Regions from separate parts of the Homo sapiens genome. Here all the other regions are linked to region 2. The links come from fine-mapping of genetic effects on gene expression. A gene starts in region 2. Each other region holds a variant in brackets. All regions are shown on one strand. Distances are from middle to middle. Region 1 overlaps ZKSCAN7 (zinc finger with KRAB and SCAN domains 7). Region 2 holds the start of ZNF660 (zinc finger protein 660). Region 3 overlaps ZNF660-ZNF197 (ZNF660-ZNF197 readthrough).

Region 1 (4,096 bases), 24 kb after region 2:
TTTTTTTTTTTTGTTTTTTGAGATGGAGTCTCATTCTGTCACCCAGGCTGGAGTGCAGTGGCGCGATCTTGGCTCACTGCAAGCTCCGCCTCCCAGGTTCATGCCATTCTCCTGCCTCAGCCTCCCGAGTAGCTGGGACTACAGGCACCCGCCGCCATGCCCAGCTAATTTTTTGTATTTTTAGTAGAGATGGGGTTTCACCGTGGTCTCGATCTCCTGACCTCGTGATCCACCTGCCTCAGCCTCCCAAAGTGCTGGGATTACAGGCGTGAGCCACCACGCCCAGCCCTCTAGCAGAAGAAATTTCTAAGCAGCAAAGCATTCAAGAAGTGACCTGGCTGTTTCTAAAAGTGTCCACTCATATTTGTGAACAAAGAGATCTGAAACTGGAACTTATATTTAAAAGGGAAGCAGAGCATAAAAATTTGGAAAATTTGTAGCCCGGCCATGTGGTAGAAAAGAAAAACCCGTTTTCTGGGGAGAAATTCAAGCCTGCTGCAGAAATTTGAATAAGTAAAGAGGAGCCAAATTTTAATAGCCAACACAATGGGGAAAACGTCTCCAGGGCATTTTAGAGACATTCACAGCAGCCCCCTCTCATCACAGGCCTGGAGGCCTAGGAGAAAACAATGGTTTCATGGGCTAGGCCCAGGGCCTAGCTGCTCTGTGCAGCCTCAGGACATGGTCCCCTGTGTCCCAGCCACTCCAGCTCCAGCTGTGGCTAAAAGAGGCCAAGGTATAGCTCAGGCTGTGTCCTCAGAGGGTGCAAGCCCCAAGCTGGCAGCTTTCACATGTTGTTGGGCCTGCAGGTGTGCAGAAGGCAAGAGTTGAGGTTTGGGAATCTCCTCCTAGATTTCAGAGGAGGTATGGAAACACCTGGATGTCCAGGCAGAAGTCTGCTGCAGGGGCAAAACTGTCATGGAAAAACCTCTACTAAGGCAGTGTGAAGGGGAAATGCAAGGTTGGAGCCCCCACACAGTCTTGCTGAGGCATTCCCTAGTGGAGCTGTGAGAAGAGGGCCACCATCCTCCAGACCCCAGAATGGTAAATCCACAAGCAGCTTGCACCATGTGCCTGGAAAAGGCACAGGCACTCAATGTCAGTTGGTGACTGCAGCCATGGGGGCTATAACCTGCAGAGCCACAGGGGCCAGGATGCCCAAGGCCTTGGGAACTGATCTCTTGCATCAGCATGCCCTGGATGTGAGACATGGAGTCAAAGGAGATTATTTTGGAGCTTTATGACTTAATGACTGCCCTGCTTGGTTTTGGACTTGCATGGGACATGTAACCCCTTTGTTTTGGCCAATTTCTCCCATTTGGAATGGGAGCATTTACCCAATGCCTATATCCCCATTGTATCTTGGAAGTAACTAACTAGTTTTTTATTTTACAGGCTCATAGGTGGAAGGGACTTACCCTGTCTCAGATGAGACTTTGGACTGTGAACTTTTGAGTTAATGCTGAAATGAGTTAAGTCTGGGGGACTGTTGAGAAGGGATAATTGTATTTTGCAATGTGAAAAGAACATGAGATTTGGGAGGGGCCAGGGCAGAATAATAGTGGTTTAGATTTGTGTTCCCACCCAAATCTCACAACGAATTGGAGGAGGGGCCTGGTGGGAGATGACTGGATCATGGGGTAGATCTCCCCTTGGTGTTCTTGTGGGTTCTCATGAGATCTGATCATTTAAAAGTATGTGTCACTTCCCCCTGCATTCTCTTCTGCCACAATGTGAAGAAGGTCCTTCCTTCCTCTTTGCCTTCTGCCATGATTGTAGGTTTCCTGAGACCTCCCAGTCATGCTTCCTGTTAAGCCTGTGAAACTGTGGGCCAATTAAACCTCTTTTCTTTTTAATTAC[C/T]CAGGTAGTTCTTTATAGCAGTGTGAAAACAGACTAATACAGAATCACAGGTTTCCCTTCCTTGAAGACATGAAAACCTCATTCTAATATGGCATTCCACAGCAAGACCCTAGAGAAAAGCTGTTGGCTTAGAAACTAGGGAGATGGAAAATCCTGGTCCTCCCACTTGATGGTAATCAGAAACAACCACACCTCAGCTAAATCTTTCGGGCAAGGGAATGCTTACTACATGTGCTCACTTCACTTGTCAAATGGAGATAATGATTACTGCACTGCCTGTTTTGTAACCCTGGCAGGAGATGAAAAAAGATACAGGAAACAGGCCAGGCGTGGTGGCTCATGCCTGTAATCCCAGCACTTTGGGAGAACGAGGCGGGAGGATCATGAGGTCAGGAGATCGAAACCATTCTGGCTAACATGGTGAAACCCTGTCTCTACTAAAAATACAAAAAATTAGCTGGGCGTGGTGGCAGGCACCTGTAGTCCCAGCTACTCAGGAGGCTGAGGCAGGAGAATGGCGTGAAGGAGGCGGAGCTTGCAGTGAGCTGAGATTGTGTCACTGCACTCCAGCCTGGGCAACAGAGTGAGACTTTGTCTCAAAAAAAAAAAAAAAAAAAAAAAAGATACAGGAAACAAAAGAATTCTGCAAGTTGCATGACTCTGCAGCCCAGCAGGGATCACTATACAAACCTTTCCCAGCCACAATGTGCACACATGTACATGCTCCTTCTGCAGCAATAAAGTGGCTTGCTCCTGATAAGCAAAATGACTCCAATTTACCTGGACCCTCCTTAATCTCCTCTTGGCAAACTTCCATGGAAAAGCTTGTTTATTCATTTAGCCATTCTGTAAACATTTTCTGAACGCCTGCTGATGAAAGATAGTCCTGCCCTTATGTCTTCGTGTCAGAAAACATAACACTGACAGTAGTGGGAGATTAAGAAATGGACTCCAAAGACCCTACACCCAAGCTGGAGCCATGAGCATTCAGCTGCCTCACTGTCTACTGTTAGTCATTTTCTTGGGTTGTGACTCAACAGTCACCCTTTTCTGAGGCTGCTAGCTGGATAAAGCACTAAAAGTTTTAATGGAGGAAGCATTAACTTCTTAAGCAAAACCAAGCAGGAAATAGGGACATTTTCCTTCTGCCACCCTCACTAAATGGTTCTCTAAATATGTCTTCAGCCACCTGTCATTGCCATGGCTGGCCCAGCTGCTCTCTAGACCCTTGTGATGGTTGATTTACTCATATGTGCTTACTTGTTTACACAAAGAAAATGATGGTTGATAATGACAAATGTGTACTGCTAATAATCCTGGAAAAATGTCTAGCCCCAGGATCCTGATCAACTAGAACTGATTCCCTAGTGATATGTAATCATTTTTTAAAAAGCATTGAATAGGCTGAGCGTGATGGCTCACACCTGTAATTCCAGCACTTTGGGAGGATGAGGCAGGTGGCTTTCTTGAGCTCAGGAGTTCAAGACCACCCTGGACAACATGGTGAAACCCCGTCTCTACTAAAAACACAAAAATTAGCCAGGTGTGGTGGCTCACACCTATGGTCCCAGCTACTAGGGAAGCTGAGGTGGGAGGATCACTTGAGCCCAGGAGGCAGAGGTTGCAGTGAACCAAGATTGTGCCACCACACTCCAGCCTGGGTGATAGGGTGAGACTCTCTAGGAAAAAAAGCATTGAATAAAATGATATATTGGGTACTTGGGAAATTCTCTATACTGTTTTCCCCTGATAAAGTACAAAGGGGTAGAGGGGACCTCTAGTTCACCCTGCTTCTATTATAGGGGAACAATTTGAAACTCATTAGGAAGAACTAACTTATCCATGGTGTGATGATCTTTTGATGTGTCAACTTGGTACTAATCAAACATCAATCCAGGTGTTGCTGTAAACTATTTTAAAAATGTGATTAAAGTACATAATAAGTTTAAGTAAGGGAGATTATACTAGATAACGGATGAATGCATGAGCCTGATTCAATCAGTTGTAAGCCCTTAAAAGCAAAGCTAAAAGTTCCATGAAGAAGAAATTCCAGGCCAGGCGTGGTAGCTCATGCCTGTAATCGCAGTGCTTTGGGAGGCCAAGGCAAGAATATCATCTGAAGCCAGGAATTCAAGAACAAGCCTGGGCAACATAACAAGACCACATGTCTACAATAAAAAAAATTAGCCTGGTGTGGTGGCACATGACTGTGGTACCAGCTACTCAGGAGGCTAAG
Region 2 (4,144 bases):
AAAAAAGAATTAGAAGAAAGGCCTAAGCCTCAAGGGAAAGGCTAACACCATGTGAAAAAGCTGATATATCTGACACATAAAAATTTCTGTATTCCAAAAAATGCCATAACAAATCTATAAAATAGAGTTTGCCTTATACTGGAATTGCTTGTGTGTATGTCTGTGTCCATCCTCAAATATATACATTAAGCTCTATGCCCTCAGAGAGCAGTTCCCATGAGATTTGCCTGTAGATACCACATGGTGTCTGACACAGAGAGGGCTCAGTCAGCATTGTTTGATTTGAAATGGTAAATTAAACAAGTTTAAGATTCTAACACCTGGAGTGCACATAGGGATGCTGAGAGCCAAATCCACACATCACTACTACCATCCCTCCTCTACATGTTTGTCCTTTTTGTGCTTCATATTATCTGGGAAACACCATAATGGTGTATTTGCATTCTTGGCAATTCTGTCTCAACAGAGTCATCCCAGGGACTAAATTCCCTAAGAGATTGACCTGGTCCCACTATTCAGAGACTCTCAGTATGTCAGAGCTGGAAGGAACCTCCCAGTCTATCCAGTCTTATATCCAAATGTACAGAAGGAAAACTTGGAACTTAGAGGAAAGCTGGGACTCAAATCCAAGTCCCATGACACCCAATTTTGAGTTCTACTACATCACCCTTATTCCCATCTGAAACAAAACTCTACTCCTCAAGGTCCAGAGGCCCCCTGCCCACTTCAGTGCTTTTCTCCTGTTTGATAAATACCACTGAGAGAAGCTCCCTTTCAACCCTGGTGCCCACAAGCAGGATTCCTGTGCCCAGACTAACTTCACAATCTAGGCCTCACCTGCCCAGGAGAGAATGGAATGACTCACCCATATTCCTGTGCACAGCAGCCTCAATCCAAAGGATCTGCACAGCACAGATCTTGCCTGATCTCCTCCTTGAGTTCAGTGAAGAAGTTCCTAAGAGGGTCTTGAGTCACTGTAAACAGATATAAATGACTGAGTTCTCTGAGCCCTGAATTCCAAGTGGACACTCAGGGCAGTGTCCCATCTTTGGGTAACTTCCCTTCCTATAGAACTGTGGGCAGTAAGAAGGATCATTTCCAGTGTAAAGATGAGGGAATGAAGCTCCCAGGGATTGAACGACTTGCCCAAGGTCCTATAGCTAGTGAGTGATTAAAAAGCCTTCTGTGTCTTCAGGAAATCCTAATTCCATCACACCACAGCCTCCCCTTTTCACCTGCTCCATTGATATCTAAAAGCTTCCATATTCTCATCTAACTGCAAAATACAATGCAGTGGAGAACTTCCTTGCAATCCAGCTTTCCACAGAAAGTCTGCACAAGGGGGATGAGAGGGAGAACTTTGCTGAGTCAAGTGTCTTTAGGAAGACAGAAAGAAACAAGTCTTTAAAAGAGCACTAGAAAAAGAATGTTCCTTTTTTCTGTTTACCCATTTCTTAGGATTACTAAGCCTCAAATATGTTTTGTGTTTCCCCCTCCAGATCCCCAGGCTCTGCTTCTAACCCTTGAAGTTTGTTTCATTTCTCCCCTACTAGAATTTAGTTCTGTCCTGTACACAACCATAACCCCAGGACCTAGCACACTACTGGGTTAGTGCTCAATAAATATTTGTTGAATGAATCAATGAATGAATGAGTAACCTTGGGCAAGACTCCGTCCTCTTCTCTGGGCCCCAGGTTCCTCACTGGTAACGGGAGGGATATTGGACTGGTGATTTGAGTCAAATACTCAGGGGCTGTGGAGTCCTGAGAGCCTAGGCGGGACTCGACCGCTACTACCCGGAAGGCCCACTGCCTAGGAGCGGGGACGACACAGTGCTGTCACCACGGCCAGCCTGGTCCAAGCGAGCAGCTACGAGGAGTCAGAGACTGGACCCAAGACAAAGGGGCAGCACTGAACGAGAGAAAGGGGAGGCCCACAACGACCCCTTGGCTGCCGCGCCCATCTCAGCAGCGGGCAGCCGCAGAGGAGCCCTGGCCTCCTGGCTTGCGTCTCCCACACGCTCCCAGAACCCGGCCCGACCCCCCACGCCAGACTGTAGAGCACCCCTCACCGAAAGCGCCAGACCCACATCTTGAACAAAGCGCAGAAGGAACTGCGTCAGCAACTCCCAGCTAACTCCCAGCCTGTCCCTCCGGCCCTTCTAGGCTTCGTGAGGTTTCCACATCTCTGTGCCCGCGGGCTGGAGTCCCCCCGCCCCTCAGAAGCCCCGCGCGGTCGGCCGACGCTCTGGCCCTGCCTCCCTTCCGGGCTTTGCCCTATCATTGGATGGAAGGGCTTGGCGACTTCAGCCAATGTGAGGAGGGCCCTGGAAGTGGTGGAAGCTGGGCAGGGGGCTTGGTTAGGGCGGAAAGAGACCGAGCATCTGGGTGGCCAGGCTGCCAGCCTCAGGCTGAGACTCCCTAAAGTTACACCCCCAGCTCCGGTTGCTGAGCAGAGAGGTCATCTTTCCTTCCACAGATCTGGGTCATTCAGCCTCAAAGCCAGGATCAGCTATGGTTTATTGGCAGCATATGAAAAGACGTTTTGGGTGCCTACTATGTCACTCACTGTTCCAGGCGCTGCGGATACAGTAGTGAAGAAAATGAACTCTCTGCCCCATTGAGTTTACATTCAAGTCAAGGAGACAATGATAAATAAATATGTAGAACGTAGCAGTAAGGGGAGAGAGGGAGTAAGGGGAGAGAGGGAGATAGTGGTGGGACTATTTTACAGATGACAGGGAGGGCAGAGACAGGAAGTGGGCAATTGAAGCATGTGGCTATCTGGGGAAAGAGTATTCCCATAGTGGGCCATTAGGAGCAAAATTCTTTAATCAGGAGTGGGGTGGAGAGGTGCACATTTAGGATCTTGTAGACTATGATAAGGGCTTTGGATTTGCTCTGCATAACAGCTGGAGGGCTTGGGGACAGAGGAACGACATGATCTAACTTTTTTTCCCTTACCACATATTCAAAGACTTGTTAGCTATGAGACATGAAAGAAGCCAAGAAGCCTGTTACTATAAATTCTGTGAATTCTTTGCTGTCTGTCCTTAGCCATTCTAACATAAACCTTGCATGAATTTTGCTCTTTGACTTATATTTTTAGTTTGCTTTGGCTGTCTTGTTGAGAACGGTCTGAAGGTGGGTAAGAGTAGAATCAGGGAGATTAAGAGGCCATTACAATATTCCAGATGAGGACTGATAGTGGCTTGGACAGGCTTAGAAGTGATGCAGGTAGTGAGAAATGGTTCTGCATATATTTTGAAGGCATGGCCTGCATGATTTGCTAATGAATTGAATGTTGGTTACTGATGACTCCATGGTTATTGATCTGAGCAACTAGCATGGGATGGTCTTTTAGAAATCGAGTAGCTTGAAAGGAACAGGTTTAGGGAGAGGGATTAATAGTTTTGTTTTGGATGTGTTAAAGATGCCAATTAAACATCCAAGATGAAATGCCAAACAGGCAGTTGGAATAGGAGTCTGGACTTCCGTGAAGAGATCACAGCTAAAGACATAAATTTGGAAGTTGTCAGGACAGGATGAGACAATCTAGGGAATGATTTATCTAAGAAGGAGTCTGAGAATCAAGCTTTTGAAGTACTTCGTCAATTGACAAATATTCAGTATTTAATATTGTTGAGTACTTAAAGTATACCAGGAGCTTTCTTCTCCATTGGCTCATGTAGGTGGCACAACTCCGCCACATTGTATAGAGATTGAAAAAGAGATTCAGACAAAAGTCCTCCACAAGTTCACACCCTCAGTTGATGTGGGACGTAGAACTCGGGACACTCTCCTGAAGAGCACAAGACTACTGCCACTACATCAAGAAACTTAAAAAGAATAGGCTGGGTGTGGTGGCTCACGCCTGTAATCCCACCACTTTGGGAGGCTGAGGCGGGTGGATCACCTGAGGTCAGGAGTTCGAAACCAGCCTGGCCAACATGGTGAAACCCCGTCTCTACTAAATATTACAAAAATTAGCTGGGCATGGTGGCAGGCGCCTGTAATCCCAGCTACTCAGGAGTCTGAGGCAGGAGAATCGCTTGAACTCGGGAGCTGGAGATTGAAGTGAGCCAAGATCACGCCATTGTACTCCAGCCTGGAAGACAAGAGTGAAACTCAGTCACACACACACA
Region 3 (4,144 bases), 47 kb before region 2:
ACCAAATCATGAGCATATCCAGGGAAAATTGGCTCTCCTGTGTGTTCTTTCTGTGGGAGTTTAATTCAAGTATCATTGGTAGAAAATAATTTGGTAATATGTATCAAAGTATAAAATCTACAGACTGTTTCACCCACCACTGCCACTACTGAGATACTAAAGGATACAGTCTCAAAAGTGTGAAAATGTACAGTTTAAATTATTAAAGATAATAAAATAAAGTTGCTAGGTACAAAATTAACACAAACAAAAAGTACTTTCATATATGCAAATGACAGTCAATTAGAAAATACAGAAAAGACTCCAATTCCAAAGAATAAATATTACCAGAAATATGGAAGATCTAGGCAATTTTAAAACATGCCCGATGCATACAAAAGCAGTACAGAAAAAATGGAATGTTATGTAATGTTCTTGAATAGAAACATTCAGAATCATAAAGCTGTCAATGTAAAGCATGATACACAGACCATGCAATACTCTGCAGCCATTTAAACTGATACTGTAAATCTGTATTTCAGTCAAAGTTAGTTCCTGTGGCTGATTACCCAGTTCTGAACGTTGATTTCTCCAAAGAGAATTCTACTCTTTTCTTCAAGTTCCAGTATAAATGCTACCTCCTTTATGGCCTTTGCTAATCCCTAGGAATGAAACTGATTGCCCCGTTTTCTGCATTTCTGTCACACCAGGTTTATGCCACTCTTGTACCAATTATTTTACTCTGCCTTGTATATTTAATATCTCTGTAATCATCTCCTAAACCATTGTAAGCTATTTAAGGGCCGAATCACATCATTTTCACAGCTGTACCATGATAGGTATTTAATGTCTGCTGGTAGCAAAAATGGCTAAAAATTGTTTTGAAATATTCTTTTATTATTTATCAAAGAAATCTATTTTAGAATATATATAACTTTAAAAATATATTAGCAACAATTTAGAATTGTGGGATTACTCAGTACAAATGAAGGCAGAGCAAAAGGAGTGTTCTTATACACCACTTCTAAGAACAGAGAGGACAGGGATCGCTACAGAAAGTAATTTGGCAATATGAAGCAAGAGCCTCAAAGCCATTCAAACACTTATGCCCAGTAATTGTACCTCTAAAAATAATAAAACATTTTAGAAGGCCTTAGGCACAGAGACAGATGATTATTATAGCAGTTATCTAAAATAAGGAATGGCTGACTGAATTATGGTACAAATCATATAGCCAATATAGATAATAACTGCAAAGAGTTTGTAACATGTGAGAACACACACAAGGAAAGCAAGCTATAAAACTGTGCACAGACACACACACACACACACTTTGGAACAATGTAAAAAATCCCTCAAACATATAGAAAAAACAGAAAGGTAATATATCAAAATGATAATAGTTATCTGGAAATAGCGATGTTAAGGAAGGTTTTTTTCTTCTTTGTAATATTCGGTGTTTTCCAAAATACATATATGCTACTTTTATAATCAGAAAACAAATAAAGGCTGGTGAAATAAAGGTAAGCATCATAGAAAGAAGAATCCTTACCTAGGGAGGTCACATTTCCATAATTCTCCAGCATCACATCCCAGTACAAGGCCCTCTGGATTGGGCCCAGACATGCCCATTCCTCTGAAGTGAAGCATACTGACACCTCCTCGAACATCACCAACTCCTGAAATAACAAGTGTGTGTGAGATTACCAATGCCCAGGAACTTGCCTGTCGAAAGGTTCCCTTCACTTCTGGGGAAGGGATACACTGTGAGGCCATGAGTGCATAACAGACATCAGGGAGACATAAGGAGATCACATGTAAAGTCTGTCTTCCAATAGCATAGACCCTGATTTAGAAATGGGAACTGACTGGACATTGAAGCACAAGGATGAGAGAGGGCACTTCAGCCACAGTTACGCTGTGCAGATGGGAAGGAAAGAGGATGCAAACCTTACCTGGGGCTGGGCTGTTAGGAGCATAAGTGCCATTAATTGATTTCTTGGGTTCTCTTCCTGGGAAAGGGCAGAAGCTTCAGGGGCAGGAGAATCTGAGGAGGGAGAAAAAGCTGCATATGGGACCTACAAACCTTTTCTGAGTGACCCCACTTGCAGAGCTGGAATAACACAAAGAGTAGCAGTAAGAATGATACAAGGCAGGGCGTGGTGGCTCACACCTGTAATCCCAGAGCTTTGGGAAGCCGAGGTGGGTGGCTC[C/G]CAAGGTCAAGAGATTACGACCATCCTGGCCAACATGGTGAAACCCTGTCTCTACTAAAAATACAAAAAAATTAGCTGGGCGTGGTGGCACGTGCCTGTAGTCCCAGGTACTCGGGAGGCTGAGGCAGGAGAATGGCTTGAACCTGGGAGGCGGAGGTTGCAGTGAGCCGAGATTGTGCCATTGCACTCCAGCCTGGCAACAGAGCGAGACTCCATCTCAAAAAAAAAAAACAAAAATGGCCGGGTGCAGTGGCTCACACCTGTAATCCCAGCACTTTGGGAGGCCAAGGCGGGCAGATCACAAGGTCAGATCAAGACCATCTTGGCTAACACAGTGAAACCCCGTTTCTACTAAAAAAAAAATTAAAAAACTAGCCGGGCACAGTGGCGGGCACCTGTAGTCCCAGCTACTCAGGAGGCTGACGTAGGAGAATGGCGTAAACCCAGGAGGCGGAGGTTGCAGTGAGCTGAGATCGCGCCACTGCACTCCAGCCTGGGCGACAGAGCGAGACTCCGTCTCAAAAAAAAAAAGGGGGGATGTATACAAGCTCAGAGGGGCCCAAGAAAGAAGGAGAGAACAACAGAACAGCAGAAAGAAATTGGCACTGTAAGAGACTCCTAGACAGGGTAGCAGAGGAAGCAACTCCCTGGAAGTAGGGGGATGAGCCACAGGAAGGGTCCTTGAACAGCCCAAAACCCAGAGCACTGAGTAAATACCATGCTGAGGATCCTGGAGGTTGAATGCCACTAGGTCAGTAGGAGGATGCGGGCAAATTTCAGCTGCTATGTGGCTGCCAGGAAGTACAGGAGGAAGTGTTGTTCCTGGGGCACTCACCACCTTCTGGAGAGTGTCCTGATCCTTGACAAGGACTGGAACCTGGAAACAAGTAAAATAAGCTAGCTCTTCTTGTTTCTTAAGAAAATGGACTCACCTAAGCACTGTGGACCTCTTTCTGCCCACAATCTACAACTGTGAGATCAGAGAGACCCACCTCAAGTATGGAGCATCAAAACAGCAGTAAAGCTTTGCATTGAGAACAATGGAGCTGCCCTCGAGCCCCACTCATGGCACTGGTGACCTCTCCCAGAGGAGACTGTACACAACGGTGGGAACAGAAGCCAGACCTGGGTGTGGGTTAAGGAGGGAATGGGAAGTAATAAGCAGTAATTAAGAGCATGGATTTTAGCTTCAGACTTAAGTTTTAGATCGGACTTCAGTCACATCTCTTCTACTTATTTACCATCTACTTATTGACCCCTTTACCTAGCCCTTTGTGCTCAAATACAACTAACACTAAAATTGGCACCAAGACACTTGGTTTTGCGGCCAGCTAGACATCTGCCTCAGTTTCCTTATCTCTCAAATGAGGATGTATTAGTAATTTGTAACGAAATATATAGCTCTAAAATTGTTCACGTTATTATTAAAAGAAACAAGCCCATCCTTAATGCCACACCCAAGTTTGAGTTATGATTCAGACGTCTTATACAGAAATGTTTCTAGTGAGCTACAGATGTACAAAAAGAAATCTCACACACATGAGAGGCTACATTAAGATCCCAATCTAATGGTCAAGGATATAAATCTTATCAGAAGCAAATATCTTAACCCAATCCCTTGGCTTGCAGATCCCTAGTAGGGCACACAAGAGGAGATCTTACCAAGATGTGGAAAGCTTCATTCTTGTTATGCTACTGCCATTTTATTTATTTATTTATTTAAAGACAGGATCTCACTCCATCACCCAGGCTGGAGTGCAATGGTGTAATCATAGCTCACTGCTGCCTCAACCTCCTGGGTTCAAGTGATCCTCCCACCTCAGCCTTCTAAGTAGCTGGGACTATAGGCACTCGCCACTACATCTGGCTAATTTTTAAATTTTTTGTAGAGATGGGGTCTTCCCATGTTGTCCAGGCTGGTCTTGAACTCCTGGCCTCAAATGATCCTCCCA

What was found. PIP is the estimated chance that this variant, and not a neighbour inherited with it, causes the effect. A credible set is the group of variants that fine-mapping cannot tell apart.
Region 1: its variant is the best candidate, but not a certain one, in a credible set for the expression of ZNF660 in cerebellar hemisphere (GTEx, PIP 0.76).
Region 3: its variant is the best candidate, but not a certain one, in a credible set for the expression of ZNF660 in whole blood (TOPMed, PIP 0.80).

Annotation. Positions count from the first base shown.
Region 1 is chr3:44,558,893-44,562,988 of GRCh38, reverse strand. All of the region lies in intron 2 of ZKSCAN7 (zinc finger with KRAB and SCAN domains 7), which reads right to left. All of the region lies in intron 2 of ZKSCAN7-AS1 (ZKSCAN7 ZNF cluster antisense RNA 1), which reads left to right. Among named protein-coding and RNA genes, the nearest start is that of ZKSCAN7, 5.7 kb to the right of the region's middle. The variant C/T (reference allele first, on the strand shown) is at 1,861.
Region 2 is chr3:44,582,935-44,587,078 of GRCh38, reverse strand. It overlaps ZNF660 (zinc finger protein 660), which reads right to left and starts at 2,115. Exons shown (of 3, transcript NM_173658.4): 1 at 2,072-2,115; 2 at 866-974. It overlaps ZNF660-ZNF197 (ZNF660-ZNF197 readthrough), which reads right to left and starts at 2,115. Exons shown (of 8, transcript NR_147692.2): 1 at 2,072-2,115; 2 at 866-974. All of the region lies in intron 2 of ZKSCAN7-AS1 (ZKSCAN7 ZNF cluster antisense RNA 1), which reads left to right. It also overlaps a transcript of ZKSCAN7 not described here.
Region 3 is chr3:44,629,987-44,634,130 of GRCh38, reverse strand. ZNF660-ZNF197 (ZNF660-ZNF197 readthrough) reads right to left here. Exons shown (of 8, transcript NR_147692.2): 4 at 3,185-3,317; 5 at 2,910-3,069; 6 at 1,935-2,026; 7 at 1,532-1,658. ZNF197 (zinc finger protein 197) reads right to left here. Exons shown (of 6, transcript NM_006991.5): 3 at 2,910-3,069; 4 at 1,935-2,026; 5 at 1,532-1,658. The region is part of intron 2 of ZKSCAN7-AS1 (ZKSCAN7 ZNF cluster antisense RNA 1); the gene reads left to right. Among named protein-coding and RNA genes, the nearest start is that of ZNF197, 7.0 kb to the right of the region's middle. The variant C/G (reference allele first, on the strand shown) is at 2,193.